4 separate regions of the Homo sapiens genome follow, and all the other regions are linked to region 3. The links come from fine-mapping of genetic effects on gene expression. A gene starts in region 3. Each other region holds a variant in brackets. All regions are shown on one strand. Distances are from middle to middle.

Region 1 (8,108 bases), 93 kb before region 3:
CCCAAAGATCAGTTTTTTCTGTTCTTCAGGTACACAATGAAATATGGCCACCCTGAGCTTGTATCTTACAGTTCCAGTCAAATGGACAGATTGGCCTTTTTGACTCCAATTCCAGATTCCTAGGAGAAAGGATATCGGCTCAGCTTTGCTCATGATTTCAGCTCTGGTCCAATGAGCTATGGCCAGAGGATATGCTCATGCAGTAGATATGTGGGCAGAGTCATCTCCCCTGTAGACTCTGAAGTCAGCTCCCAGAGAGGAGGGAAATCACTAGAAACTTGGCAGACACTCCCAAAGAGATCAGCTATAATTATCTTCACAAATGAAGCTCAGCACATTTTCCAGCACAAATGAGTTTTTGAGAGAATAATACATGCTGGGTCCTCATGACATGCTAATTAATAGCCTAATTTCTGCCAAAGAAAATTCTAAAATTATTTTAAATTATTAAACCAAATCTAATTGTATGCTAAATTATTTGAGATATATTTTTGGCACCTTCTACTTCCTAAACATCTACTCCTCAAATAAAGAGCAAGTCATGAACTAGCGTTATCCAGCCTGGAGCTGAGAGGCTTTGAGAGCCTCTGCCAGGGAACTCCGAATCAAATGGGCCTTTTTATTGAGGAGTTGATTAGCACTGTCCCCTCTGGCCTGATCACCTTCTTATCCAACCATTTCAGGTCTAGCTTAAATTGGAGGTGTTTCCCCCACACATATAGTGTGTCCTCAGATGATCTCCTTGGATAACTCCCTCATCTTCAAATATTTGTTCAAATCTCACTGTCCCTATAAGACCCACCCTGACCAATCAATTGACATTGCAACCCCCATATCAGCACTCTTGAGTCCCCTGGCCCTTCACCAGATTCCCAAATCTCCTAGCAGACGCTTCAACTGATTATGCTGATCATTTGTTTTGTTTGAGAAGTCAAATAATCCAGAAGTCTTTAGACAAATGATACTTACATTATAAAGTGAAAATAAGGTGTCATTCTAACCGATTCTCTGGTAGTTCCTTCCATTGTGTTCTCTTTGAAGATGATGAAGTGAGGCATCTCACTTCCTGGGCAGGGAAAAGGAACATGCACACAAACCCAGAATTCTGAGGCAATTTCATCTGACTGGTTAATTTAGCAGAAGCCAATTTCACCAACAATTTTCTGCAGTGCTTCTCAAATCAAGTGGCAAAGGATTTAATGAAGAGATCCCAGGTGCAATGTTAGTTGCTGCCATCTAGTGGCTTTTGTGAAGGAATAGTGTGATTCCTTGGGCTCTTTTCAAACGCCAGGGAGAAACTCAACCTGGAGAGAGTTCTTGAAGATATCTACCACTGAACCCTTATTAGAATTGTGTGTTTAAATAGAAAGGCTGAAAATGGAAGAAAGAGATCTGTGAAACTACATATTTATACTATCAAAGCAAAAACTTGGTCCATGAATTTATGGATAGATTAGTTTAATAAAACTAAAAATTCTTGGCTTCTTCAGACTCAATTTTTCAAAAATATTCCACATAAAAAAATCCTCCGTAGTCTATTATGATGTCGTTCCTTTATTCACTTAAGGCAATGTGGAAGTCAATGGCCCCCAACCTAGAAAGAAATCATCAGAATCCCTGGGAGAGTTTTGAAAATATTTATTTCCAGGACATACCCCAGACCTGTTGAATCTCAATCTCTAGTGAAGGGGCCAAGAATTTCTTTTTTTTTTTTTAATCCCGGAAAAGTCTGATGATAAGCCATTTTGGATAACATATAGTGCAGAAAAGAGCTTTAGATTTGGAGCTGGACACACTTGCGCTTAAATCCTGGAGATGCCACTTTCTAGCTGTTCAACCTTGGACAAGTCAGCAACCTGTCTGAAATGGGGAATCTTCGTAATTATCCACGGAGTTCACATGAAGATTGAATGAGATTACATATTTATAACCCTGGGCATGGCGTGCAGTAATGGCTGCGAAGGCATATAGGCCTAATGAGAAAGAACCAAATCCTGAACACTCTCCATGTCCAGAGGATGGCACAAATATTTGTTCTCCCCAGCTTCCAGAAATCCCCCTTCAGTCATTCCTGATTCTTCCTCCCATAGGTGCCTTGAGGGGCTCCTCTCCCTTGGCCTCCCCTCCCCTTCTTCTCCTTCCCCTTTTCTTGCAGGGTTCTGACTTGATCAGAAGCTGCCTCTTGTGCCAGCAGGTCCCATTTGCTTTGCATCTTCATGTCCTGCAGAGTTAAGACTCAGGGAACAGACAAACTCCTCTTACTAGGATTGATCTCCTCTCATTACATCTTTGCTAAGTTATGTTAAAAGACCCACTTCCTCCTCTGAGGTGAGAATGGAACAGAGAACCACTTCCCACCACAAATGCAAATTACTATCTGGTATATATCTAACACAAAGATGAGCTCTTCCCCCTTGTTGTCTCTTCTTTGTCTCCACATCCTTTGCCCTTCTTCTCTTCCTTACCAGGTCTACTTTGGGCTGCTCCAGCAGAAAGGACTGCTGGGTGCTCTCCAGTCCAGGACCAGGGACCTAGAAGTGGTTGTACAGGGAAGTAGTGGGGAACCCAGGTCATGCTCCCCATTACAAGTGCTGAATATCCAGTATCTATCTTCCGTGGTTCCACTCTCTCTTTTTATTCTGGTCACCTTGAAAGCCAAGTTAACTTCCAAATCTACCCCCTTAATAATGCAACAAATCACACTAAAACTAAACCATTTTAAAGTAAATTAGCATGTGCCTTCAGCGTTGGACTAAGGTGGGAGTAGGGCTCACACTCTTTGCAGCAGCATGATGTCCTCATGGTTTTCCTCCTACTTCTTGAGCCATCACTTCCCAGTCTCCTTGGCCAGCTTATTCCTGGGCACCAGCCTCACCACTGGAACTCCTGGAGTCTGCAGTTGTTGGCTCTTCTCTTCTCACTCCTGACCTTGCCCATGACCTGGGCTTCACTCATGCTCTACTCTGGGATTATTCCCCAAAATCTCCAGCACAGACCTCTCCTCCCAAGCTCCCTGTATAACTCAACATCTACACTGGCCTGTCTTAAAGGTGTCTCAAACTCAATCTATTGCACACCAAATTTGTATTTTCCTTCTACATCCTACCCAAACTAGGTCTTCCTCTGGATTGCCCATCACAGGGTATGATAACACCCTCCATTCATTGTACTGTGGACTCTACTCCCCTTTACTAACCATAATGAATCTTGTTTGGTCAGCTTTAAACATTTGTAGAGCTCATCAATTTCCCTCTCTCAACCCCAGCCCATCATCTTTGTCCTCTTAGCTGATCTCTCCACATCCATAATTATTCCTTCCTAGTTTCCACACTGCAGCCAGCATGACCCTTTTTAAAAAGCAAATGTACTCGTGTCACTCCTTTGCTTAACGCATGTCAGTGTCTTCTCATTGCTCTTAAGGGACCACTATCTTAATGGCCTGTCAGGCCCTGCATGACCTGGCCCCTGCCTCACCTCTCAGCTCATTCCAAGCTGCTGTTTCACTTACTGTAAACTGCAGCCAACCAATTTCTTTCCATTCCTTCAAGAGATCATGATCACTCCCCACCTCAGGGCTATGGCACAACTTAGTCCCTTAAAAACTCCCAATCTTCCAATTTCTACTAAAAAGGTACTACCTTAAGGCACTTTCTTGAACTGCCTCCCTAGCCCTTTCCCTCCTGCCTTAGTTTGCTAGAAGACTGAGATCAAGGTGTCCATAGGGTTGGTTCCCTGTGAGGCCTGTGAGGAAGATCTGTTCCACGACTCTCTCCTAGCTTTAGGTAGTTTTCTGGCACTCTTGGGTGCTGTTCATTGGCTTGAAGAACCATCGCCCCAACCTCTCTCTTCATCTTCACATCGTGTCCTGCCTGTGTGTGTGTCTGTGTCCAGATTTCCCCTTTTTAATGAGGACGTTATCATATTGAATTAGGGGCTTGCCCTACTCCAGCATGACTTCATCTTAACTAATTATATCTGCAATGACCCTATTTCCAAATAAGTTCCGATTCTGAGGTATGGAGGGCTAGGGCTTCAACATATGAATTTTGTGGGGAGGCACAATTCAACCCCTAACACACCCTGTTTTTCAGGTGGAG[T/A]CCTTCAGTTATGTAGTGTCATAGTTCTGCCCTGCAGATTTTTTCTGCCCTGCAGGTTTTTTCTGCCCTGCAGTGTAATTATCACTTGAATAATCACACAAGCAAATGTACATCTATTATGCATAGATTGTAAGCTCCATGAGGGGCCACATCCACTTTTGGTGACCGTTGCATCCCCATGTCTGGCATGTAGCAGTCATTAAGTAGTCACTGAAGGAACACATAAACTCTGTGGCCCTCCACGTTCCCCATTGCATGTCAATGTCAAGAGACCAGACTTTGTCTCCCAAACCTGCTTGATCACTTCTCAGTGATCAAGATCCGGCTGGAGGCAGACCGGTTGACATGAATTGCTGCCCAGTCTTAGTGACCCCCTGAAATGCCAACATGATCTCCCCTATCAAGCCAAGCCCCTGCTAGAAAAGGACATCTCTAAAATGTGTTAGCACACTGCAGTTTCATTTTAAATGTGTCTCATAATCACCAGTGATTACTACTAAGGAGCTTCTCTAGAGATCTTAAAAACAGATTGCTTCCCTAAGGGCTGGAATAGTTCAGCTGGGTACCTAAGGGATGTGTGAAATAAAATAAATTCCTAGCGCCTCTTTTATCTCTAATATTCTAAGATCCTGGTGGTTTGATAACTTTGGACATGGTCCCTTAATGCAGACAGAAGAGTATCTTAGTCTCCTAACTCTCTGACCAACACTTAGATCAATAAGGCACTGTCGACAGTGCACTAGAATAATAAAGAACCCAGATAGGTTGAAAAGCCCTTTGTACCAATATAACTGTAATGCTGTTAGAATCACCTTTCCTGTATGCTCTCAGAAATAAGTGCCGCTTTTGCAAAGTGTTAAGATAATTTAATGTCTGGCTTTTCTGTTTCATCATCTCATGGCATGAGGAATGCTGACTGCTCTAAACGTTGAACTTCTAGAAGCTTGAACCCATTGACTTGCCACGAGTAATTACTTCAGGAAGACTCCTGAGCCAGCGAGAAGCCAGGACAATGCACAAAGCAAAGGTGAGCTGCAGCAGTAACCTGACAGGGAGGTGAACTGGGGGTGGGCGACACAGGATTGGGGCACTGGAGCACACTGGTCCTTTCATGCACTCTCTGCATGGAGGAGTTCAAAGACAAATCAAACTGTTAAGTCATTCAGAGTGAGAACTTTTCAAAGCTATTTATTCTCTTCTGTGCATGCCTCCAACTGGCAGTGGCTATTACCTCTTGCATGAGCTCTGCACCCTTTTCTGCTTTGTGTTGAAAACCAGGGCAATGTAGATGAGAAAAGACTTTTACTTAGAAATTGGTGATTCTGAAGTTTTCAAATCTGTGAAAAATTCAGCATAAGTCCTCCCTTTCATTCCTCCCCTCAGTTTAAAACTTTTTATTCTCAGTTTGCAGGAGAAATCTTATCTACAAGTTATTCCTGACTTATTTGACACAACCTCACCAAAAATTAATCCTGGGAAATGTCTTCTGTGTATCTTTTCCCTGCTATGCACTTATAATGTTCTGTTGACTAGAACTCCCCTCACATAGAAATGAAAGCTTAGAGGTAGAAGCAGATTTTCAACACTTTCCACTCCTAATTTGTTTTGGAGCTTGCTAGGTGCTGCTGTGTGGCTGGCTGACTTGACAAAGATGTCCAGGTGCTGTCACATCCTCAAGCCCACGTTTGTGGTGCTGACAGCATCTGTGGAGATGGCCCCTCCCTGAGGTTCACATCAGCTGACAGTCACTATCCACACAGCAACACAAAAGGTATTGTCAAACACATCATCTTTCCTGGCAACAGCAAATGACAAATGAAGGTATATTGACCTCTGGCTGCCCTCAATAACCGTCTGCACTGTCCCACTGGAGTTTATGATGCACTGGCGGGGAGATGTTCAGAGTCACAAATAATCAACTTCAAATCCTCCCTAAACTGCAATATTCTCCAAGGCTTATGCTGGCATATGGAAATGCACTCTATAGAAATAGGTTCCATTTCACCATTCAGCAGCTTCCCTCTCATTTCATAGCCAGCCAATTACTCAATGGTAAAAGAGGCAGGGAGAAAAAGAAAGGTTTCCTCAAACCAGAACACAATTCTGGAGAGGTGGTAATAAGCATCTGTTTACAAAGGAAGTGATATCTTGCCAAAAATGAGATGTGGAAAGATATTCCCATTTAAGGTTTACAAAACTCTATAGCAACCTAAAAAACTACATATATACACATCAAAGAGCCACTTCATTCATTGATAGTGACACAAAGGACTTGTCAGGGACACACGATAGTCCACTTTTGTCATCACAAGATATCTCTACAGGTTATGACTGATTAAGATCTGACTCTGTTTCAAAAAGGATCTAAACTTGTGAATTGCAGAGTCAGTAACAAATTACCCCATACTAACAAGTGTGTTGTCTTTCATAGCAGGTACTAGAAAAGAAAATGCAAACTCCAATGTATACTTCTGAGAACAGACAATATTTGCATAAGATGCAAGTGCTGGAAATGATCCGTAAAAGACAAGAGGTAAATACGAGAAGAGTGTCATATTTACCAAATTTTCATCACATAATCACTGCCCTGCCACATGAATATATCAAGCATAGATAGCCAGTCTTTACTTAGCATTTTAAATTTCGTCATTGAGGTTGAAGGTTCAACTACTAAAGCTGAGAAGAATCAGGAAGATTCCTTCTGCTGATAACCTTGTTGAGTCTTTTCTAAGTTTGTATCTGTGTATCTGTGTCGCAAGTCTCCATTTTTAAAAACAGTTTGCTCCTATGACATTCTGGACATAGGAAAATGGGGCTAGATCATTTTTCTTGGTTTAGTGAAAGGAGGAGGGGGTGAGTTGTTCTTTATTCTGATACCTAGGCCTCTCTCTATAATTCTTGCCATAGAATTATCTAACAAGAAAGACCTCTTGTAAAAAAAACAACCAACCAACCAAACAAACAAAAAAACCCTTTACCAGTAATGCCTGTAACTGTCATGTTCCAAATTCCTCCCTCTAGGAAATGAGCCTTTAGTTACTGCTCTCTGGAACTCCAATCATATCAGCTAGCTGACAGAAACACACTTTTGTAAAGGTCCTCATCTTAATTGAGCCATACCTTTTTGAGACTGGGTGCACTCACCTTTCTCTTAACAAGCCTGTCAATAAATAAAGTTCCCATACCTTCTAATAGGAAAAAGAAAACCATGTTCTGGTTAGAGGACTGCAGATGTCTACAGATAAGCACACAACTTGCAAAGTGGCTGATCTGTTGATCTAGTCTGGTGAAAGTAGCTTGGGAAGAACATTGATCATTTATAGTTGATGATTTTCAGGCCCAAATGGAGTTAAAGAAAAGTCTTCATGGAGAGGCAAGAATTAATAAGCAAAGTCCAAGGGACCATAAAGCCAAGAAAACCCTTCAAAGCACCCCAAGGAATGATGACCATGACCTTCTAACCATGTTGCCTGATGAAATCTTGAACAGAGGTCCCGGTGAGTCATGTACAATTTTTTAGTAAAACATTTCAAGTGTTTTTAAAACTTCATCAAATAAACTACCAAGGGAGGGACATGATGAGAAGACAGCAAACAGCTTTGAGCTCTTGCTGAGATTTTTACTTCCCAGAATATAGTGGGCATGTTGTCATGTAATTTTGGATGGCTGGGAGGAAAAGACAGAAGCTTAAGCTTGGTAATTAAATGTCTCTTTCTTTGTATGGGTTTAATATGCTTTGCATGCTTCATTGCAAGTCTTGCCTCATCCCTAGAAGCAGAAAAGGCAAAATAGCCTCATCTTGTGGTTAGAGAGAATGAAGCATATGAAGATATATTGCCGGCAGTCACATGGCAAATTTGCTTCAGCAGAGTTGGTACCATATGCAGACACTTATCTTCCTGACTGCACCCTTTTCTGTGGAGGTCAACTCTCTTTGGCACATTCAGAATTTCTAGAATGAATCACTGCCCAACCTAAGCTTGCTGTTCCTGCTGATCTACTGGCTCAGTG
Region 2 (8,108 bases), 77 kb before region 3:
CAGGGGAAAGATGAGAAGAAGCCACGAGCACTGGTGAGGACCAGGACAGAGAGAATCCCACTTTTCGATGAGTTTTTTGATCAAGAATAAGAATACTATTCATTAACCTAGAAACTGAGTGCTTTGAAAGCTTGTTTTACTCTCAAAATCTTCCAAACTGATATATGAATTACTTTGAGGACAGCAAATCACTTTGGTAAAAAGAAATGATATCTTTAGAGTCTTATGATTAACAAGTCCGTCACATGTGCTGTTAACTATTGCTGCATAACTAAATGCCTCAAAACACAGGGGCTAACCAAGAGCCATTTTATTGTCTCACTTTCCTGTGGGTTGCTGAGTTCAGCTAGGTGGTTCTTCTGCTGTTCCCTTTTGAAATCTTTCATGTCATTGAAATTGGACTACATTTGGACTACTAAGACTGGAGTCATCCAGAGGCCCCATTAGGACACTGACACAGGGGGACCTTGCCCCCTATCCATGTAGCCTCAGAGCATCTGCATATGATCTCTTCAGCAGGACACTGCAGAGATTTCTCTCATATGAGCCCAGGGCTCCCAAAAGCAATTGTCTCAAGAGGAGGAAACAGAAGTTGCCAGTCTTCTTAAAAGCTAGTCATAGAACTGACTTTGCATCACTTCCACCATGTTCTGTTGGTTAAAGTCATAGACCAGCTTGGAGTTAATGCAGAAGAGGACTACACAAGGGCATGAGTGCCAAAGTGTGGTCCTTTGGGGTTCATCTTTGACATTTGCCACCTCACCATGTTTTTAAAAAGAAAATTAGATTACATAAAACAAATAGATGGGCTGGATGTGGTGGCTCACACCTGTAATCCCAGCACTTTGGGAGGCCGAGGTGGGCAGATCACTTGAGGTCAGGAGTTCAAGACCAGCCTGGCCAACATGGTGAGACACCGTCTCTACTAAAATACAAAAATTAGCCAGACATGGTGGCATTCGTCTGTAATCCCAGCTACTTGATGCGAAGGCTGAGGCAAAAGAATTGCTTGAACCCAGGAGATAGAGGTTGCAATGAGCCAAGATCACTCCACTGCACTCCAGCCTGGGCGACAGAATGAGACTCTGTCTCAAAATTAAAAAACAAAAAACCAAAAACAAATAGATGAAAAAGTAGACTGGAGACAAATAAAAGTGAGTTTCTAAAGGAAATTCACAGTAATGCTGCATTAAACACTAAGCTCACTTAGGTCACTTTCTAGTGAGCTAACCGTAACAGAGAGCCTACAGGATACACGTGAGATAATGTCACGTGTAGAAGATCGTTGTGAATTAAAGTTCAAAATTAAGACTTCTTAGATTATGATGTAGATTTTAGAGCTCCTTAAAACATAAAGCGAATCTTATAAATGTTCAATTCTAAAGTTATTCCACTTGGAAAAATTAGCTTTTGGGACAATTTTTAAGAACTTTTGTGTAAAATGCAGCTCCATGTTTAGCATAATCTAAAAATAATTTCAAGCAATCCAGAATCTTCCAAGAATTTATTAAAGCTTTAAAACAAAGCAAAACAAAAAGACCCTTTTGTGCCTTATATGGGAAGACTCCAAAAACAGAAAAAAATAGAGGAAAACACCACTTCAATTTGACATTCAATGCATTCACATCAGAAACTAAGAAGATAACAAGCCTGAGATGTCAGGTGATAAAAATTCATGTTTCTTCCAAGGACAGAAGGCTATTAGATTGTCCCAGGCCATATCTATTCCCAGTTCTTTGTGAGTAGTCTTCTTACTTTTTCTGTGGTAGGTAAGAAGCATATTTCCACCAAAAGAAAGCATGCATTGTTTGACTAGCCAGCTTTCTAGAAAAAATGAGATCCTTGAGAGGATAAACAAATCCAACCTATTCATGGTGTCCTCACTTATTGTGGTCAATTTGGAAGGCTTAAAACACAAAAAATGGGATGGATAACTTTGAACACTAAAATTAGTGGAGCCAAAGGCACGTCTTCACCATTCTGTTATGTGACTTAAAATTCAATTTCACGAAACCCACTTCCACAAGCTTAATGAACTGTGAGCTACATGAGGGCATAAACCATGTCTTCTTTGTATGGTATTTCTGCTTCCTAGCAGGACAGCTGGCAAAGAGTTTATCATTAAATGTTTGCTGAATTAATGAATGTGTTGAGTTGACTAGTCAATTAGAGAAACACTTGTTTCTCTCCAGCTATGCAGTTGCTCACCCTCATTTCCATCATCTCCCAGGAGTCTTGGATAGACAAGGTTGATTATATAGTAAAGAAAATGACTTTTTCTTGCAAAAGCTGTTGCCGTTTATACATCTAAATGAATGGCCAAAATTAAGCATTGCCTTGGGATACAGGAACTATGTGTATATGCCAATAAGGATGCCATAGCTCAAAATACTTTTCAAAACTATCAGAGTGTGTTAGCTTCCAAAGAAAATCCATCCTAATGCCTTCTCTGTTTATTAGCCAGCTCCATGTAGAACTCCTTATAATGCAGTTATGATGAATTCAAGGATTTTAAAGGAGTAATAATTATAGTAATAATTGCCAACATGCATTTCCTGTTTATTGTGGGCCAGTACTCTTCAAATATTTTACCTATTTAATCCTCATAATGATTTTGTAGGTCAGTATTAATATCATCCCCATCTTAAAGATGAGGAAATTGGGACACAGAAAGGTTAAGTAAGTTGCCAGAGTCACCTAGCAGAACTTCCCTTTGGAGTAGACTATTGTTTACCAAAAGTGACCTGATAGAAGCCAAGGACTCTTCCCTCCTTTCCTCAATTTTACTTCCAACTCACCAACTACATTACACAGCACTCTGTATTTCTTTTGCATTACATGGTGTGGTTCCTTTTGGGAGGAGTGGGGAAGAGGTAATAGTACACTAGAAAGGGTGAGAGCTTTGTGGAATTATCTTTTAGCAAGGAATAGCTTAACTGATAGCCGAACTGCAGGCAAAGGGAGGATAAAAGCACAGAAGAAAGGCAGATGAGAGAGTAAAGGAAACCTTAACTGTCTTCCCAATTTGGCCTAGGGAATCAGTCCCCAACCTTTCAGCACCAGGGACCAGTTTTGTGAAAGACAATTTTTCCACAGATGGGTGAGACAGGGGATGGTTTCAGGACGAAACTGTTCCACCTCAGATCATCAGGCATGAGATTCTCATAAGGAGCATGCAGCTTAGATCCCTTGCCTGTGTAGTTCACAATAGGGTTCACACTCCTATGAGAATCTAATGCCTCTGCTGACCTGACAGGAGGGGGAGCTCAGGCAGTAATGCTCCATTGCCCACCACTCACCTCTTGTGTACGGCCCAGTTCCTAACAGGCCATGGACCAGACCAGCACCTGTCCACAGCCCAGGGGTTGGAGACCCCTGGCCTGGGGGCAGCATAGGTGAGCATCCCCACTGAAAAGCCCCATCCAGGGTGGATCAGTTGCACACTGTGACAAAGACTCAAGGGTAGCAGGTAGCTCAGTTGCACAATGTGACAAGGACTCAAGGGTAGCAGTTCTCGATGCTGGCGACAGGTTAGAATCACCTGTCAATGATCAAAAACTAATAACAACCAAGATTTCTGGGCCCCACCTTTTGATTTAATTGGGTTGGAGTAGAGCTCTGGCATTGGGTGGTTGAGTTTTTTTTTTTTAAGCTTCCAGGTGAATCTATCACACAGCTAAGTTTGAAAATTACAGCTTTAGCAATAAGAACATTCTATTTTACCAGATTATATCACCTTCTAGCTATAAAAGAAAGAACTTCTGAGATAGTTTTTTAAAGTTAAGGACATTAGGCCTGGAGCTTCACAAAACAGTAAGAGAAATGTTCATTTTGTAAGTAATTTTCTGAGAACACCAATCCTACAGTTAATCTCGAATTTGTTCAGGGCAATGTACGGCCATCATAAAACCAGCTGTTGCTGATAAAAGCTATAAAATTCAGCCTAGAGGTAAAGCTGTCAATTTTCTTCAGCTGAAAATCTCTCCAGCTTTGGAAAGAAAATAGGCTTGTCTAGGACTAAATTCATACTTC[C/T]TCTTGTGAAAATAATATTTTCCTTCTTGCTCTGAATTTTTCATTAGAAAGAGAAATATCTTTTTTTGCTTGAATACTTTTGGAAATATATTTTTCTCAATTTTTTTTCAGGCAGAGTGTTGTTTTTCATCACGTACTTATTTTGATGATAATTCAGAGTTACTATACTGGGATTTAACTAAACGTAACTTTTGTAGGAGTCACCTATGAAATAGACTTGTGAACAAATGGATAATGTTTTCTGCTTACATAGAGCCTTTAAAAACAGAAAATAGAACCCCAGCTCTTTGTGCCCCTCCCTTTCTTACCACAGAAACATAATGGTCATCAAATTATAATTAACATCAACTATTTTCTGCCTTGAATAAACAATAAAAGCCTATTTCCACATATTACTGCAAAACCTCACCAATTTAGATTGCTACAGGGAAGGCTTCGGAGAAAGTATGCTAAAGGGTAGGTTATGGAAGGTCCGACCATTAAAAATCTGAATTACATCTCATTTTAAGAGAAATGCTATTTCATTCAAGTACAGAATACACAATAACACAATTGGAAACTAAGTCAATAGTTAAGGATTTTTTAAAGATATGTACTTTATAATAAGTCTGCAATTCATTCATTTGTGTATCATTTAATCATGCATTCAATGAGTGGGTTTGAGTATTACTACATGCCAAGTACTGTTGCAGATGCTGAGAATATAGCCATCAACAAGACAAAGTCCCTGGACCCATGGGTTACATTCCAGTGGGGGAGATCACGAGCAGATAGTCAAGTACAAGATAATACAACTTAATGTAATGTTAAGCATGATTAAGAAAAATAAATCAGATAACAGGGTAGGCAGGGATGGAGTGAACTGCTTGAGGCAGGATGCTCAGGGAGAGACTCTGAGGAAAAACCATGAATGAAGGGAAGGTGTGAACCATGAGAAGATCCATGGAACAGGCTTTACAAACACCAGAAGAGCAGGTGCAAAGGTCCTGAGACAAGAATGAGCTTATAAGGTTCAAGAGCCAACAAGAAGGCCAGAATGACAGAGCGACCAAAGGAGAGACAAACAGGGATGATGTCAGAAAGCTGGTCAGGGCCCAGATGTGAGAAGCCCAGAGGAGCATGGTATGACAATGGGTTTGAAGTGTAATACAGTTTTAGAGTCAGAAAGGAATACTTGTGGTCTAGACTGATATCTCCAATATAATCATGAACAAAGGCAAACAGACCCACTAAAGTCACATGGCCATAGCTAGCTGACCTGGGGCTGACCCTGGACCCACTGAGCAATCAGAGAGGGCCTTGGTTTCTGCTGGTGGCAGGAAGCTCAGCGAGGAAGCTCAGGAGCAATGGGTGGCAGTGCTCTGCCCTGTAGGCCAGAGATGCAGAGAATGCTGACCTGTAGCAAAGAACCAGAGAGACCCACTGAGGCCTGACAGTACATCTGTTCCTCATTCCCAGTCCTTCCCAAGGCCCTGCTGCCCCCTGCCCTTCATTCTGAGACTGTATCCCTATCATAAATTGTGCTTTCTGCTTGGGCCAGCTCCAACCGATTTCTGCTTCTTAAAATCAAACAACTTCAACTAATAGATATCTTAAGCAGCAGCCACCTCCTTGCCTCATGACACAACAGCAGAGGCTGTGGTGTGCTGGAATCGGCATGAGTGGCCAGCACCAGCTCTCAAAAGGAACCATGAGGATCTCTTCCCAATCTGTGTTCAGTGATGCCATGCCGGCCATGGTGGGAACATTTACACCAGAAAAATTAGTGAATGTTGCAGATCAGGGCTTTTTTCAGAAAGCTGATATTAAGCATTTACTGACACAACTGGCTAGAAGTAAGACCCACCAGGCTCTGGAGCCAGAAGTCACAGCCCAGCTTGGCCAATCCCTCTCTTAGGTAATTATTTCACCTGTCTGGCCAGCATCCTCACTGTAAAATGGGGAAAAGGATAATGCCAACCTAACAGTGTGTTGTGGCAATGAAATAAGATAATACACATAAAGTGCTTAGAACAATGCCTGACACATAATAACTGCTCAATACACACTAGTTACCAAACAATGTTATTACCATTGAAATTAGGAATAAAATAAGATTTTGTGTGTGAGAGTGGTTCTAGAAGTCTAATCAGTTCAACAAGACAGAACAAAAGCCAGAAGTACACAACTACGGAACCATGAAAATAAATGCATCACAATTAGCAGGGGAAGTAATTATATGGCTGGACTACCCAAGGGAATCAACTGAAACATTTTTTGATTTAATAATGGAATTAAATGGGTGTTGGATAAAAGAACTATATTTTAAAATCAACAGCTTTTGCAAACCATTTCTCGGAATTTATCCAACAGAACACTGTGCAAAGACAAATGCTCAAGGGTAAATAGTGAGTTCACCGATCACAAGGGAGATGTCTCAGGGTACACTATCTTGGAATATCCTTTCTCTGTAACTCCAAGTCTCAAGCTCCCCTTTCCATTACTATTGAAAACTGTGCTCTTACCAATCCAGGGTACTTTTGTCACTCCTGGCTTGAAGTGCACCCTCAGGATTCTCTCCCACTCTCCCTTTTTCCTCCCCAGCCAGGGTCCATGGCTGGGGGAAGACACACAGGCCTTGATTATGGTGCTATCCTGGGGGCATGTGGGGAATAGCTCATTGGTGCCATCCTTTGTCCAAACTGGCCTCGACTGAACGATACCCATCTTGATGATCTTGGGCATCGGCCTTTCTCTCCTGAGCATCTACCCCAACCTCCCTGGCTGGTGTCACTTCCCACCATACTCTCAGCACTAGCCTTGTGTAATGATTGCTCAGGAAGAAGCCCAGTGGTTTTCTCCTGCTGAGATGGTCACCACCTCAGTCTAGAGGGTGTGACTCATCCTTAAATAATCAACTATATCTTCTATACAGTCCCTAAGGTAGGCTGTCCATGCCTCATGCTGTGCTAAGAAATCCCCATGGCTCTCAATTCTCAGCTCCCCTCCCCCTACTCTGCTTTGGAAGCCTTGGAAACTTCTTAAATATTCTCCATAACCTATGGGGCAGGGAGATGAGGGGCCTATCTCAGGCACTCTCTACCAAAACATGTCTTGCTGCCATTATTACTGTGCTGTAGTCCACAGATGTTGCCCTCCTGAAGTAGCAAACAGGTGGAGGCAACGTACCATGAAGCTCAGGAAGCTTCAGCTTCAAGGCCCCTCGTGCACACAGTCCTCTGCCCTGGGAGGAGCACTAGCAAATCATTTACATGAGTTTTCATTACAGTTCTCCAGGAGCAGACAAGGATGAAATGCAAGCAGTTTATGTTGGAGCTGATGCCACGAAATACCAGTAGAGGAGTAAAGTGAGACAGGGAAAGCTGCCAATCAAGGGGCATAATCAAGGAAGTTACTATTCTGGGTACCAGGCTTAATCCTGCTGGGGAATTCTGTGCCTCAAAGTTATCTCATCTATAGAAGAAGTATGCTGGGGTCTGATACACCACCTTTAGTCAGTCATTGGTTGATGGCTGCCAGAGCATGAGGGAAGAAGAATTAATTATCTGGTACTTCTTAAATGCCATGTATCCTCAGGTCTATCTGTGGAGAGAAGTTCTCAGGCTCACAGATACAGATGCTGGTAAAAGCCAAGCCAAATTAAGGCCTGTGGGGATACGATGGGGGCGCCAAGAGCTTACTACAACTTGGTTACATGTTTTTGTAAAATGTGCAAAAGTGGCCAGCGCGGTGGCTCATGCCTGTAATCCCAGCACTTTGGGAGGCCAAGGTAGGTGGATCATGAGGTCAGGAGATGGAGACCATCCCAGCTAACACGGGGAAACCCTGTCTCTACTAAAAATACAAAAAAATTAGCCAGGCGTGGTGGTGGGCACCTGTAGTGCCAGCTACTCTGGAGGCTGAGGCAGGAGAATCGCGTGAACCCGGGAGGCGGAGCTTGCAGTGAGCTGGGATCACGCCACTGCACTCCAACCTGGGTGACAGAGCAAGACTCTGTCTCAAAAAAAAAAAAAAAAAAAAAAAAAAAAAAAATCAGTGGTTGCCAGGGATTAGGGGAGAGAAAGAGTTGAATAGGT
Region 3 (8,108 bases):
CTTATATAAAACTATCCAAAAATGAGGAAAAATTAAAACCATTAAACACAATACAACTGGACAGTACTTTCAATCTGAACAGGAATTTCAAACAAATCTTTGTCCTTTGAGCATGGAATAAGCAAACAAAATATTAAATTAGTTCATTCTTAAGACCTGATTTCTTCCTAATTTAGAATCTATAGGAGCAAAAATCAAGCTGTATACATCATCTAAAAAGCCCAATATATCATACACCATTACGATGACATTAGTAGTGAAGACCAATGCTGCATTTTTTTTTCCTGATAAACTACTCATGAATATGTGGTACATTTACAGGAATCACTAAATTGCTTGTCAATTTTTCCAAATAAAAGCTCTGCATATACATTTGGAATTCACGCTATTAAATGTATTTTTTCAAGGATGGGAACTGAAAAATCCCCGGCAAGATTAAGACTTAACACTACAAGGCCAAAGGGTTGTCAGTCTATAAAACTATGAAAAAAATAAAGTGAGAGATTCCCAAATTCTAGAACACTACAAATAGAAAACTGGAGGAAGCCAAAAAGTTAAATTTAGAACAAATAAATGGAAGTACTATGTTACATTTGCTGAGAGTAAGTTTAAGAACTTCAAAAAGATACCAACAACTGAAAATGTTACTATGAAAACAGGTAAAGATAAAATGGTTAAGTACAGAGTAACTGAAAGTGTCTCACATTTGTCCTTTTTTTTTTTTTTTTTTACATCTTTTACAATTAGGAAGAATCATAATAAGCTATCATTTTTATTAATCAAGTATTGGCAATTTTGTAAGGTTCAACCCCATATACTCCATTGACCCATTACAGGTTATCCACGGAAAACGGAACATTTTGGAGGTTTTTAATCTCTTGAGATTGATGTAAGGGCAACTGTCCCTTGGTGAAGATAACTTGGTGACACAATAATCTTCACTGAATGGATCAAGGGTATGTCATTTTTCAGGTTCTTGTTTGTTACCATAATGAGAGGCCAGGAGAACTGGGTTCTAGCTTTACCCTTCCGACGGTAAATATCTGGAGATTGAAACATTTTAAGTCACTTTGGTTCTTAACTTCTTTTCAATCAAAAAACAAAACAAAACCTACCCCTCTGTCAGTAAATATCTGGAGATTGAAACATTTTAAGTCACTTTGGTTCTTAACTTTTTTTCAATCAAAAAACAAAACAGAACAAAACCTAAGTTGGGCTAGATTATCTCTAGGATGGCTTTCAGTTCTAAAAGGATATGATTTAAAATAAACAGACATTTACGCATCTGTATTTTTAAAAAAATAGTTCCTATGGGAAACTTAAATTTAAAAGTATGCCAAGATAAAGGCTTCAGTTTTAAATGGCCTGGTTGTTTTTTTACTGTTTTATTATTGTTTAATACCTCCTGATTCATACTTGCACCAGTAAATCTTATAGGTCAACCACTTGTGCATATCGCAATTCTAGATACTCAGAATATTAAACAAACTTGAGCTACTAAAGGCTAACATACACATTAGCTGGTGAATTGGGAGGGTTCTACATAAAATCAAATCTAAAGTTTACTAATATTGTTGACCAGAGTCTAAAATAGCAAACAAGTTGAGAGAGGCTTAGGTAACTATCAGGACTCAAAGTTGACTAAATATCATATACACAACTATTTCCTGGAATTGACAGAAAAACATCTATTTCAACTTGAAATGTGACTCAATCATCTACTTCTGTGGGTTAACTTACAACTAAATCTACAATTTTTAGCAATTACAGTGGCATTTGATATGACATTTATAATAGTGCTATAAATCATTTTCTCATATTCATTGACACAGACATGTCTTAGAACTATTCTGATACAATGCTTAGAATACTGAAAGAGCAGTTTTCAAGAATATAAAGTAGTACCCACAGTTTTAACAAATGTACTGAATTGAAGTTTAAGCAAGTTAAGACAGAAAATAGAACTACCATTATCTACAATACCCAGGTTACATTTTCAAATTATCACCAAGCTAGAGAATCAAAAAGATAAGTATTGTCAAAATATCTTGCAGGGAATTACCAAGTGAAACTAAGCCAATGCTAAAACATTAAGTAATGGTGGCTTTTCCCTTCACATATTAAAAAATATTCCTTAAAAGGATGTCATCTTTCTGTAGTAAAATTCAACAGAAACAATATGCTTGTGAGCACATGATACAAAGCATACACCTGCAGTCAACGTTTAAGTTAAAGGGTTCATACAGACTGAAATGGGTCAATATTATTGTGAAGAAATTACTGGTACTGCCAATACTATGTTAATTTTTAAAAACCGTCCAAAAGTCTTTCACTTACGTGTAATATTATTGTCAATTATACTCTACACAAGCCAGTGTTACTAGTGTTTGGCCACATCTACAACCAGTTTCTTAAATTAAAAAAAAAAAAATCAGATCGGTAACAATTTCACACAAGTTTTCTACATTCCACAAAAGGGTATTTTGTTCAAGTTTCAGGAGTCTTTCAGCCACCAGAAGTGTTAGTAGCGCTTTCTGGAATGGAGTACCAGAAAGCAGGCTGGCTACAACTGTTAATTGTCCAGTTGAAGTAAAGAGAAACATCTCCATAATTACCGAAAATGCTTGTAAGATTTAATTCTCCAATATGACCACACCAAGTTTGCTGACATCCATGTTCACCACAACATGTTTATGCATACACTCTTCCCTGATTATGGTTGTAATCGAGAGACTAATAAGGCCTGTATCTGAACAGAACCATGTTCAAATTAAATGACTGTAAAGTGTTTGAGGATGCGGGCGGGTAATTAAAGACGGTTAAACACGATTATAATCTAATGTAAACAAGACACAAGACCCCCACCCCAGTGAAACACGCCACCATACAGGCTTGCTGCAGTTACACTAGTATCACGTTAACCCGAATCATGAAGTCTTACCTTCAAAACAATTTCATTAAATAACTAGGAATGTGTACAGCACTTGACATCATATAACGTACTATGATACGCAGCAGGAGATATCCACTGCCACATTCTGGGCCCTCACTCCCTGCCCCGCACAGTCTCGATCACTGCTGGGTTCACCCTCTTTTTATTCTATCCACTTACCAAGAAGCACAGCTGTGGCCAGTTGTGGATAAAATATCTATAGGTATAAATGGAGTAGGGTTCGGACAGATCTTTGGTGATCAGTCTCATGATATCGGGCATTTGTAGCTCGGATTCATATCGGACATATCGTATCGTCCGATCCTCCCCAGGCTCAACCTCCCTGCCCGAAGGGCTTCTTAAGCTGCAGTCGGCGGTCAGGGACGAAGACAGCAGCCGCACCTGCTCGTCTTCCTCCTCCTCCTCCTGCTCGGTGCCCTCGGCCAGTCCATTGCGGGCCGCCGCGGGATCGCTCGCCGCCGCTGCCTCCACCGGGCTGGGGACCGCAGTTCTTGCATTACTAGAGAGGGAGTGAGGGGGCCTCTCGCCCGAGTGTACCCCGGCTCCTTTTGTTGCAGTCGCTCTGGGGCCTCCGTCAGGGGTGGCTGTGGTCGCGGCCACCTCTGCTACGCTCAGGACCTTGCTCTTGAGGGAGGCGGCCGCCCGGAGGTGCCGCAGTTCGGGGCTAATCAATCCGTTGAGCTGCTGCTGCTCCTGCGGCGGCTGAGGGCAGCGGAGGCACGGATGCCCCTTGGCCGCCACCGTCGCCGACTCTCCGCCCGCCGGGCTCCTGCTGCCGCCGCCTTCGTGCTCTTCGTCGTCCTCCTCGTCCTCGCTGCAGCAGGCGAGGGCGGCCCCCGCCGGGAAGGGACAGCGGGGCTCGACCGCCGCCGGGGCCGGAGGTGCTGGTGGTGGGAGGAGGCTGCTAGGCCCAGGCGGTACCTCCGCCATCCTAGAAGCGACACAGACCGAGAGGGGAGGCCATGAAACCCGGCCGAGGAGCGCGGAGAACAGGGGGCGACGGATGGGGGGCGGCCGAGGTGGGGGGAACAAAGGCAGAAACCGTCCCTCACGGAGCTGCCCCCCAATTCCCCGCCACCCCCCCGCTCTTCAGCGCCGCCCAGCTGCTCAGCCGGCCACCGTCCCCGTCCGCCCGGGCCCACCCGCCAGCCCTGTCACTCGCGGCCCCTCCTCACGGCTCACCCCGCACGGGTCCCCGCCGCCGCTGCCGCCACTCCTCTTCCTCCGCCACCGCCGCCGCCTCCTTCGCAGCCGCGGCAGCCTCCACAGCCGCCAAGGTTCTCACTCAGCCGCCGTCGCCGTAAAGCGCCTCAGCTGTTAGGCCGGGTAAAGTTTCCTGGGCCTGGCTTTACGACACTTCCCTGCCTGCCGGCTGCCCGGGCCAAGAGAGAGGGGCGTGGAGGGAGGTGACCTGTGGAGGGGCGGGGACAAAGGTGTCTCCTGCGGGCTGCGGGGAAGGCCGCGTGCTAGTGGGTGGGGCTGTGGGGCCGGGAAGTTGCAGAGGGCTTTGGAGTCACAGGCTCCCAAACCCTCTTCCTCGGTTTGGGGGCGCCTCAACCTGCGGTGCTTGCCACGCGGGGCCGGGGAGGGATGGACCGGGCAGGCGCTCCCTGCTTAAAGTCTACCGCGCACTCCGAGCTGTAGCGAATCTCGCCAATTCGGGGCCTGTGGAACAAGCCGTTTACAAGTCACCTAAAAATGCCCTTTTAAAGCTGCACAGCGTTTAATGTTTGCCCTGACCAGGGGCAAGGAGGATGGGGGAGGAGCGATTAAAAATGGAGCAAATCAGAGAAGCCGACCGAAAAAGAAAGGAAGATTTGAGCTGTGAAAATATGGGGATGGCTGTCGAAACGTGGTGGTTTGCAGTGTGAATTAAGTTCAGCTGGCCCTTGCCACTTTGAGGCAAGGGAGTCAGCCCTCTTCCTCTCCCTCCTTACTCTGCTCCTCGCACCCAGTAAAATTGGAGGCAAAAGTGACTGACAGGTGTTGGGCAATTGCTAGCACACCTGGGGAAGGGTTAGAGAGAGGTGGTGAAAGAGAGTGACCAGGGCTAAGAAGCACACTCCTAAACTTGTGACACAAATAGGTTAGGAAGCACTGGTAAACAGGTGGCCTGATCCTCCCAGGGGATCTGCCTATCGAGTGCAAAGGGGATAGAACTTGAGCTTGTGGCTGGGCGCCTTCTGCTCTAGTCCACAATTGACTCCCGGCAGGTCTGAGCTGAGACAGGTAGTGTAACTCACCCGCTCACTGAACAAATTCGGTTTTGTTAAAAACCTGATTTATAGAGCTGGTCTGGTGTGCCGCAGATGGACGTTTTCAATATATAATTCTATGACGGAACACGTTTGCAACTTTTTGCCGTAATCTAAACTCTATGTATAAAGTATTTATTATGCTCGCAGATTCTGTGCCTCTGAAATCCAGACAGAGCACAACTGGGATGGCTTTTCTCTACTCCATTATGCGTAGAGCTTCAGTTGGAAGACTCTAAGGCTGAGGAGTAGAATTATTTGAAAACTTCACTTTCACCGCTGATGGTTGATGCAGGATAAAGGCTGGAGGCCTCAGTTCTAGTCCATGTAGACCTCTCCCGGTGGTCTTTTAGCATTGATTGGTTTGGGCTTTGTCACAGCCTGGTGGCTGGGTTCCACGGCAAGTATCGTGCGAGAAAGTCAATCAGAAGCATATTACCCATTATAACCTAGCCTTAGAAGTCATGTAGTCTCTAGCCAGGTGCGGTGCCTCACGCCTGTAATCCTGGCATTTTGGGAGGCCCAGGCGGGAGGATCTCTTGAGGCCAGGAGTTCGAGACCAGCCTGGCCAACACAGTGAAACCTCATCTCTGCCGAAAAATACAAAAATTAGCCGGGCGTGGTAGCTCATGCCTGTAGTCCCAGCTACTCAGGAGGCTGAGGAGAATCACTTGAACCCGGGAGGCGGAGGTTGCAGTAAGCCGAGATTGCGCCACTGCACTCCAGCCTGGGCAACACAGGGAGACTCCCTCTCATCAAAAAGAAACAAAAAACAAGTTATGTAGTGTCAGTTCTGCTGCATTGTATCTAGGCAGACACAAAATTATATCCAGTTTTGACAGGAGGGGAAATAGACTCTACTCTTGGTGGAGAGAGGCAAGGTTCTCAAAGAGCATATGGGACCAGAAATATTGCTGTGGCCATTTTCAGAATGTATAACTTGCTACAGATACATTGAAAACCTCCTAAACACCTTGATGTGTGGGGGATATAAATGAGATGTATAAGTACAGCGTGATCCCTTTTCTGTCTTTTAAAAAGCACAAAACAAAACCATGTTTCCAAATGTGCATACATTGTTTAAAGATACATGTTTTTCAAAGTTTCTAAGTGTAACCTGGGTAGTCAGCCAATGAAACAATGATCTGTTCAAATCATGGTGGAAAAACTGGCCCAAGAGGCACCAGATAATTCCATAAGAGATGTTTAAGGGTGAATTTTACTTAGAAAAATACCTCTCAGTAATTTACTTTTAAATGTAAGCCCTTCCTAAAAAGCATGTACCTTCACTGTAGTGAATGAATGGCAGCAGGCCTTCCTGTTCTTTCTGTGTTGCAACTTGGCATTGAGCTCTGTCACACTGAGGAGCTGACCAGATGTTGTCTCAAAGTGGTTTTCAGAAAGTCAAGAGTTGTAAGGACCTTCTTGAGGCCAGGGAGTAAATGTTAGTCACTTTGTATTCACATATCAAACACATAAAAGGGAAATTGTTAAGCTTTTTGACTGAAGTACACCAGTCTCTCATTCAGTAACCTAGAATGCTTATAATGACAAAGTAAATTCTGACCTCCTCAATAACTAGTGGGGTAATTCTAATGTCTCAGCCCCAGTGATTTTTCTTTATATCCCAGTATTAAAATTACAATGTTGGCCTTCTAAATCAGATGACATCTCTAAAAAAAATTGCCTTTATAACTTATGAAATCTTTTCTATTTGATTCATGTTTACTTGATAGGATGATAGCACTATTTTAGGCATAGAAATAGGATTAGTTCACTCTAATGCTTTAGACATATTTACTATTATGAGACTCTGAAAAAACAACTACCTCCATGAGCAATACTTCATAGGAAAGAATGGGCTCAGAGCAAGGTGAGTGTAGCAGTGATACTCTTCTGTGTGGTTAGTTGATATTTTCATTGTTTTGTAATATCCTATGAAGCAACAGCCATTTTTTCTTTTCTTTTTTTTTCTTTTTTTTTTTTTTTTACTATTGTTGTTCTCTTTTGAGGAAGAAGAGAACATGCCTTAATTTTTTAGAAGAAAAAAAAGCTTCTCATTAAATCAATTAAAATAACCAATAGCAATTTTAAAACAACATCCTGAAGCAATTTATTGAAATCAGCTTGGAAGGAGAAAAATTTCTATTTAATTCTTTCTAACAGTGAGGCATTTTTCTCTTATTGGCTAGGTTTAGAGAGAAAACCTAGCTGTGTACCTACCTGAAAGGTAACTGTGGGAATGAATAATGGAAAGATGCTTTAAGTTCCCTTGACACAGCAGGATGACATTGTTATGTGCCATAGGCACACATACTAAATAATTTAAATATTTGTGTAGTTTTATTTTACATGTCATGTGGTTCTTAATCCCACTAATCCTATCTATTATACATAAAGCCCTGAAAATGAATGTCCTTAACTTTGTTTCATCTTGAATGAAAGAAAGAACATACATCAAATTTGAGAGCTGAAGAACTTAACCAAAGGATGAATATTAGTATATTGTTGTATTACCTGTAATCTTAGAACACTCTGAGATGCCCAGGTAAAAGACTAACAATTTGATTCTTCCCTTCGAATTTGGGGAATGACAGTCTGTTCTTTAAACTTCTTTCCCCTTGCCAGTAGTGGATGGCAGTACCAATTGTAGGTAGGCATCAATTTTGTTTGTAGAACTGAGGCCTCAGAGGACTATGAAGAACCAGAGAGGGTTGTGGTCAAATGGTCCCCATTTCCATTATTTTCAACCTCACACTAACTCTTCATGACCTGCCTGAAGACATGGTCAGGGTGATTCTCACAGATACACCTGGGCTGGTGAGACATGTTGGAGAGAATCATATATTCCTACATATTAGAGCCAAAAAATTTTTGGTCTCTAATTTAGCTATGCCTTC
Region 4 (8,108 bases), 61 kb after region 3:
CAGAGACGCTCCTCACCTCCCAGACGGGGTCGCAACCGGGCAGAGGCGCTCCTCACATCCCAGACGGGGCGGCGGGGCAAAGGCACTCCCCACATCTCAGACGATGGGCGGCCGGGCAGAGACGCTCCTCACTTCCTAGACAGGGTGGCGGCCGGGCAGAGGCTGCACTCTGGGCACTTTGGGAGGCCAAGGCAGGCGGCTGGGAGGTGGAGGTTGTAGCGAGCCGAGATCACGCCACTGCACTCCAGCCTGGGCACCATTGAGCACTGAGTGAACCAGACACCGTCTGCAATCCCGGCACCTCCGGAGGCCGAGGCTGGCGGATCACTCGCGGTTAGGAGCTGGAGGCCAGCCCGGCCAACACAGCGAAACCCCGTCTCCAACAAAAAAATACGAAAACCAGTCAGGCGTGGCGGCGCGCGCCTGCAATCGCAGGCACTCGGCAGGCTGAGGCAGGAGAATCAGGCAGGGAGGTTGCAGTGAGCCGAGATGGCAGCAGTACAGTCCAGCTTCGGCTCGGCATCAGAGGGAGACCGTGGAAAGAGAGGGAGAGGGAGACCGTGGGGAGAGGGAGACCGTGAGGGAGAGGGAGAGGGAGAGGGTCATTGGTAAATTTCATCATGGTTAAGATCATGACATCCAGACCCACTCTGCCTGGGTTTCAAATCCCAGTTCTGCCATTTCTCAGCTGTGTGACTTGCACAAATTACCTAACCTCTCTGTGCCTCAATTCCTAATCTGCAAAATGAGGATGATAATAGAATTTATCTTGAAGGCTTATGGGGACTTTGTGAGCTTAGAGCAGTGCCTACTACGTGGTAGATGCTGTGATTTATGTTATAATTTCTAAACCCTGATAACTCCTGATTTAATCCTGCCTCCTGGAGCACCTCCTTCTCTGACTTTCCTGCCAACTCCAAGGATGACCTCATTTTATGCATCATCAAAGTCCCTGGAAGGTAAGGGCTGCGGTCAATACCCCACAGTGCTCAGTGGGTGTTTGGGAAGAAAGAGAAGAGTCATGGAGACTCAGGGCTGACTTGGAGCATAGAAGGATCCTCTAACCACCCCCACACCTTGCACACACACAGCCTCCTTTCCTGCCTTCTCTCGATGAAACTTTTTTACCAGAACAAACAGCTTCCCCATCCCCAGTAGTGGCAGCATCCCCTCCCCGACCCATGCTGCCATCAGCCTTTCCACCTTTGTCTGAGGAGATAAAGTTTGCGCTGCCTGAGACAACAGTGATGGGCTTCCCTGAGGCAGTTTCCAGGCAAGATAATGTTGATTCTCATCAGGAGCCACCCCCAACACCCCTGTTTGCTTCTAGACATATAACTAGACTAAAGTCCTGGCAGGCCCCTAGAGGTGAGGTTGAGAGTGTGACCTATGGGGAGGTGCACTACACTCAAAAAGAACTGCTTGAGTTTTCTAATTTATATAAGCAGAAATCTGAAGAACAGGCATGGGAATGGATATTAAGGGTGTGGGATAATGGTGGAAGGAACATAGAGTTGGATCAGGCTGAATTTATTGATTTGGGCCCACTAAGTAGGGACTCTGCATTTAATGTTGCAGCTCAAGGAGTTCAAAAAAGTTCTAATAATTTATTTGCTTTGTTAGCTGAAATATGGATTAAAAGATGGCCCACTGTGAATGAGCTGGAAATGCCTGATCTCCCTTGGTTTAATGTAGAGGAAGGGATCCAAAGGCTTAGGGAGATTGGGATGGTGGAGTGGATTAGCCACTTTAGACCTACTTATCCCAGCTGAGAGGGTCCAGAAGATACACCCTTGACCAATGCCTTGCAAAACAGATTTGTGAGGGCAGCACCTGCATCTTTGAAGAGCCCTGTAATTGCTCTTCTCTGTATGTCAGATCTAACAGTGGAAACCACAGTCACTCAACTACAAAATTTAAATACAATGGGAATAATTGGATCCTGAGGTGGGAGGGGCCAAGTGGTGGCACTCAACTGTCAAAGGCAAGGTGGGCATAGCTACTGCCATAATGGACAGCAGAGGCAAAGTGGCAATCAGAATAGTCTGACTTGTATAGAGCTCTGGCACTGGTTAATTAATCACTGTGTTCCTAGAAGTGAAATTAATAGGAAACCTACTGCATTCCTACTTAATTTATACAAGCAGAAGACTTCTAGCTCAAATGGACAAAAGACTAATTTGAATTATAAAAACAGAATCATGGCCCCTCAATCAATTTCCAGACTTGAGTGAGTTTACAAACCCAAAGCCACTTGAATGAAGGGGAGGCCAGGTCCCCTTGAGGAAGGACCTCACTACATTACTGACAATTTATGCAGTAAATCTTTCTCCCATCCTTCCCCAAGGAGACCTCTGGGCTTTTAACAGAGTAACTGTGCACTGGGGAAAGGGAAATTATCAGATATTTTGGGGACTACTGGACACTGGCTCTGAGCTGACGTTGATTCCAGGGGACCCAAAATGTCATTGTGGTCCTCCAGTTAAAGTAGAGGCATATGGAGGTCAGGTAATTAATGGAGTTTTAGCTCAGGTTTGACTTACAGTGGGTCCAGTGGGTCCTGGGACTCATCCTGTGGTCATTTCTCCAGTGCCAGAATGCATAATTGGCATAGACATACCTAGTAGCTGGCAGAACCCCCACATTGGCTCCCTGACTGATAGGTTGAGGGCTATTTTGGTGGGAAAGGCCAAATGGAAGGCATTAGAGCTGCCTCTGCCTAGAAAAATAGTAAATAAAAACAATATCACATCCCTGGAAGGATTGCAGAGGCTAGTGCCACCATCAAGGACTTGAAAGATGCAGGGGTGGTGATTTTCACCACATCCCTGTTCAGCTCTCCCATTTGGCCTGTACAGAAGACAGATGGATCTTGGAGAACGACAGTGGGTTATCTTAGGCTTAACCAAGTGGTGACTCCAATTGCAGCTGCTGTACCAGATGTGGTTCCATTGCTTGAGCAAATTAACACATCTCCTGGTACCGGGTATGCAGCCATTGACTTAGCAAGTGTGTTTTTCTCCATTCCTGTCTATAAGGCCCACCAGAAGCAATTTTCCTTCAGCTGGGAAGGCCAGAAATATACCTTTACTGTCCTACCTCAGGAGTATATGAACTCTCTGGCTTCACGTCATAATCTTATTTGGGGAGAACTTGATCTCTTTTCACTTATGTGAGATATCACACGGGTCCACTACATTGATGACATTTTGCTGACTGGATCTAGTGATCAAGAAGTAGCAAGCACGCTGAACTTATTGGTGAGACATTTGCATGCCAGAGGGTGGGAAATAAATCCAACTAAAATTCAGGTACTTACTAGTTCAGTAAAATTTCTAGGGGTCCAGTGGTGTGGGGCCTGTCGAGATATTCCTTCTAAGGTAAAGGATAAGTTGTTGCATTTGGCCCCTCCTACCACCAAGAAAGAGACACAACACCTTGTGGGCCTATTTGGATTTTGGAGGCAAAACATTTCTCATTTGGGTATGTTACTCTGGCCCATTTATTGAGTGACCTGAAAGGCTGCCAGTTTGAGTGGGATCCAGAACAGGAGAAGGCT[C/G]TGCAACAGGTCCAGGCTGCTGTGCAAGCTGCTCTGCCACTTAAGCTATATGACTCAGCAGATCCAATGGTGTTTGAGATGTCAGTGGCAGATAGGGATGCTGTTTAGAGCCTGTGGCAAGCCCCCATAGGTAAATCACAGGCCTCTAGGATTTTGGAGCAAAGTTGTGCCATCTTCTGCAGATAACCACTCTCCTTTTGAGGACAGCTTTTGGCCTGTTATTGAGCTTTGGTGGAAACTGAACATTTGACTATAAGTCATCAAGTCACCATGTGACCTGAACTGTCTGTCATGAATTGGGTGCTTTCTGACCCATCTAGCCATAAAGTGGTTCATGCACAGCAGCATTCCATCATCCAATGGAAGTGGTATATATGTGATTGGGCTCGAGCAGGTCCTGAAGGCACAAGTAAGTTACATGAGGAAGTGGCTCAAATCCCCATGGTCTCCACTCCTGCCACCCTGCCTTCTCTTCCCCAGCCTACACCGATGGCCTCATGGGGAGTTCCCTATGATCAGTTGGCAGAGGAAGAGAAGACCAGGGCCTGATTCACAGATGGCTCTGCATGATATGCAAGCATCACCCAAAAGTGGACAGCGCAACACTACAACCCCTTTCTAGGACATCCCTGAAGGAAAGCGGTGTAGGAAAATATTCCCAGTGGGCAGAAATTCGAGAGTGCACCTGGTTGTGCACTTTGCATGGAAGGAGAAATGGCCAGATGTGTGATTATATACTGATTCATGGACTGTAGCCAATGATTTGGCTGGATGGTCAGACACTTGGAAGAAGCATGATTGGAAAATTGGTGACAAAGAAATTTGGGGAAGAGTTATGTGGATGGACCACAATGAGTTGTCAAAAACTGTGAAGACATTTGTATCCCATGTGAGTGCTCACCAATGGGTGACCTCAGCAGAGAAGGATCTTAATAATCAAATGGATAGGGTGACCTGTTCTGTGGACACCTCTCAGCCCCTTTCCCTAGCCACCCCTGTCATCACCTAATGTGCCCATGAACAAAGTGACCATGGTGGCGGGGAGAGAGGTTACACATGGGCTCAGCAACATGGACTCCCACTCACCAAGGCTGACCTGGTTATGGCCACTGCTGAGTGCCCAATTTGCCAGCAGCAGAGACTAACACTGAGCCCTCAATATGGCACCATTCCTCAGGGTGATCAGCCAGCTACCTGGTGGCAGGTTGATTATATTGGACATCTTCCATCATGGAAAGGGCAGAGGTTTGTCCTCACTGGAATAGATGCTTACTGCTGATATGGGTTTGCCTATCCTGCATGCAATTCTTCTGCCAAGACTACCATCCATGGACACACAGAATGCCTTATCCACCGTCATGGTATTGCATACAGCATTGCCTCTGACTGAGGCACTCACTTTACAGCTAAAGAAATGCAGCAGTGGGTTCATGCTTATGGAATTCACTGGTCTTACCCTGTTCCCTATCATCCTGAAGCAGCTGGATTGATAGAACAGTGGAATGGCCTTTTGAAGTCACAATTACAATTACAAGTCACAAAGTACAATGTACTTTGCAGGGTTGGGGCAAAATTCTCCAGAAGGCCCCATATGCTCTGAATCAGCATCCAATATGTGATATTGTTTCTCCCATAGCCAGGATTCACAGGTCCAGTAATCAAGGGGTGGAAGTGGAAGTGGCACCACTCACCATCACCCCTAGTGATCTACTAGCAAAATTTTTGCTTCCTTTTCCTGCGACATTACGTTCTGTGGCCTAGAGGTCTTAGTTCCAGAGGGAGAAATGCTGCCACCAGGAGACACAACAACGATTCCATTAAACTGGAAGTTAAGATTGCCACCTGGACACTTTGGGCTTCTCCTACCTTTAAGCCAACAGGCTAAGAAGGGAATTACAGTGTTGGCTGGGGTGATTGACCTGGATTATCAAGGTGAAATCAGTCTACCACTCCACAATGGAGGTAAGGAAAAATGTGCATGGAATACAGGAGATCCATTAGGGCGTCTCTTAGTATTACCATGCCCTATGATTAAGGTCAATGGGAAACTACAACAGCCCAATCCAGGCAGGACTACAAATGATCCAGACCCTTCAGGAATGAAGGTTTGGGTCACTCCACCAGGAAAAAACCATGACCTGCTGAGGTGCTTGCTGAAGGCAAAGGGAATACAGAATGGGTAGTAGAAGGTAGTCATCAATACCAGCTATGACCATGTGTCTGGCTGCAGAAACAGGACTGTAATTGTCATGAATATTTCCTCCTTCTTTTGTTAAAAACATGTTTGTGCATGTATACACTTGTACTAAGAAAATATCTTCACTTTATTTCCTTTCTCCTTTACCATGTGACATAAGATTTATTGACTTCACATCAGCATTTAAGTATTGTTAACTTTATGTAATAGTATTTGGATTGGGGATGGGTGCATTTCTGGTTGTATGAAGGATAGTTGTATTGTTAAGTGTAATTATGACCTTATTATTGTCTTTATTCGAAGATTATGTATGATCTCAGGAGATGTGTATGGGTTCAAGTTAACAAGGGGTGGACTTGTGATGGTTATAATGAGTGTCAACTTGATTGGATTGAAGGATACAAAGTATTGATCCTGGGTGTGTCTATGAGGGTGTTGCCAAAGGAGATTAATATCTGAGTCAGTGGGCTGGGAAAGGCAGACCCACCCTTAATCTTCATGGGCAGAATCTAATCAGCTGCCAGTGAGGCTACACTATAAGCAGGCAGAAAAGTGTGAAAAGACTGGCCTAGCCTCCCAGCCTACATCTTTCTCCCGTGCTGGATGCTTCCTGCTCTTGAACATCGGACTCCAAGTTCTTCAGTTTTGGAACTAGGACTGGCTCTCCTTGCTCCTCAGCCTGCAGATGGCCTATTGTGGGACCTTGTGAGGGTGTGAGTTAATACTTAATAAACTCCCCTTTATGTATAAATCTATTCCATTGGTTCTGTCCCTCTAAAGAATCCTGACTAATTCATTGGGTTTGACATTAGTTGATTGTTTATTCTCTTGAGAATTGATCCAATTTTCAAGGTTATTTACATATCAAGTAATTTTGGATTGTATCCTGAACATTTTAAATATTATGTTGTGAGTCTCTGAGTCCTGCTAAAATTCTCTGGAGAATGTTCATTTTGTTTGTTTCAGCAGGCAAAAACCCTCATAGGTTGAGATTACAAATTCTCTCTTTGAGCAGTAGTTCCAATACTAGTTCAGTTCTCAAAGCCTTTACTATGCTTGTGTATGTGTGTGTGTGTGTGTATGTGTGAGTGTGTGTGTATTCCCCCATGGACAGCTTGGAGGTAAGGCTAGGACTTGTGTCAGTTCATTCACAGAATTAGGTTCATTCTCAAAATCTCTCCTCTCTGAGATTTCCTCCACACTGTCTAACTTCCAGTGATCTCTTTTCCTGGTTCCTCTGGCAGGAGAGATGGGGTTCGTTAAGAGTTTTAACCTCTGTGCTAATGAAACTCCCAGTTCCATACAACTGGGCCCACTCTCAGAGGGGGAGTGAGAGAGAAGTGGAGAGAAAAATAATGGAGACTCCTCTACAACCTTCACCACATGCATGCCATGACACGGAGATGCATGATTGGCCTCAGGTCAGGTCAGGGAGAGGAAAAAGGGGAAGGTGAAAAACAGGGACTTCCCCCGCACTCTTCAGTTTGCAGTGGTTTTTATTGCCAGTCTTCTGGCCCGACGGTTTTTGTCGTCTGCATCTGCCGAGCAGTTTTGTGATGTGACCCACCCTCCAGTAAAAGCAAAAAAAAAAAAAAAAGCCCCAAATCAAAAATTGCCCACCCCCAAAGAAACAAAGATCACCATTACTAACACCATTGCAGTTTTTCTTCAGTTTTTGTTTTATTTTGTTAGAAAAGGGGGTCTCCCTTTGTCACCCTGGCTGGAATGCCATGGTGCTGTCATGGCTTACTGAAGTCTTGACCTCCTGGGCTCAAGCCATCCTCCCGTCTTAGCATCCCAAGTAGCTGGGACCATAAGTATGTACTACCAGGCCCAGCTAATTAAAAAAAAAAAAATTTTTTTTTTTTTTTGGTAGAGACAAGGTCTCTCTATGTTGCCCAGGCTGGTCTCAAACTCCTGGGCTCAAGCAATCCTCCCACTTCAGCCTTCCAATGTGTTGGCCTTATAGGTGTGAGCCACCTCGCGCAGCCATTCTTTGAGTTTTGAATTTCTTCCTCAAACTGCTTTGTTATACTTCTCAGAGTTCCCAGGCAGTTGCTTCTTGAATTCTGTGGTCTTTATCTATATTCAGTGGGAGAGACGAAGTTAAACATGTAGTGTGATTACTTACATGTAAAAATATGTGTAGTTATATGTAATACTTTTTCTAAAGACTAGAAAGTCAAAATTATCATCATGATTATTTTGGACTGCTGTCATTTTTTCTCCCATTTTCTATTTTCTAAACATTTTATAACACACCTTCCTCAAACCTTCGTGTTTAATCCTGCTTCTTCCAAATCTTTGGTTAGCTGAGCTTCTCTGAAGGAGCTTATAGTTTTTAATCATTAG

Which allele goes with the higher level. Positions count from the first base shown, and alleles are read on the strand shown. Sizes are in standard deviations (SD) of each study's normalised expression. Not every link is listed here.
For the expression in unexposed skin of the gene that starts at base 4,255 in region 3, allele T in region 1 goes with a lower level than allele A (small effect, 0.18 SD a copy in GTEx).
For the expression in whole blood of the gene that starts at base 4,255 in region 3, T is the high allele of the variant in region 2 and C is the other (moderate effect, 0.46 SD a copy in GTEx).

What was found. PIP is the estimated chance that this variant, and not a neighbour inherited with it, causes the effect.
Region 1: its variant is the best candidate, but not a certain one, in a credible set for the expression of NAA30 in unexposed skin (GTEx, PIP 0.85).
Region 2: its variant is the best candidate, but not a certain one, in a credible set for the expression of NAA30 in whole blood (GTEx, PIP 0.68).
Region 4: its variant is the best candidate, but not a certain one, in a credible set for the expression of NAA30 in sun-exposed skin (GTEx, PIP 0.64).

The regions. Positions count from the first base shown.
Region 1 is chr14:57,480,081-57,488,188 of GRCh38, reverse strand. It overlaps CCDC198 (coiled-coil domain containing 198), which reads left to right. Exons shown (of 6, transcript NM_018168.4): 3 at 5,038-5,124; 4 at 6,529-6,630; 5 at 7,435-7,594. Among named protein-coding and RNA genes, the nearest start is that of CCDC198, 9.7 kb to the left of the region's middle. The variant T/A (reference allele first, on the strand shown) is at 4,098.
Region 2 is chr14:57,463,337-57,471,444 of GRCh38, reverse strand. It overlaps CCDC198 (coiled-coil domain containing 198), which reads left to right. Exons shown (of 6, transcript NM_018168.4): 6 at 1-2,145. The coding sequence ends at 90. Among named protein-coding and RNA genes, the nearest start is that of CCDC198, 26 kb to the left of the region's middle. The variant C/T (reference allele first, on the strand shown) is at 4,033.
Region 3 is chr14:57,386,733-57,394,840 of GRCh38, reverse strand. It overlaps NAA30 (N-alpha-acetyltransferase 30, NatC catalytic subunit), which reads right to left and starts at 4,255. Exons shown (of 5, transcript NM_001011713.3): 1 at 4,136-4,255; 2 at 3,113-3,884. The coding sequence starts at 3,883. RefSeq lists silencers at 3,728-3,877, 4,008-4,147 and an enhancer at 3,276-4,271.
Region 4 is chr14:57,325,548-57,333,655 of GRCh38, reverse strand. No RefSeq gene overlaps it. Among named protein-coding and RNA genes, the nearest start is that of AP5M1, 61 kb to the right of the region's middle. The variant C/G (reference allele first, on the strand shown) is at 3,560.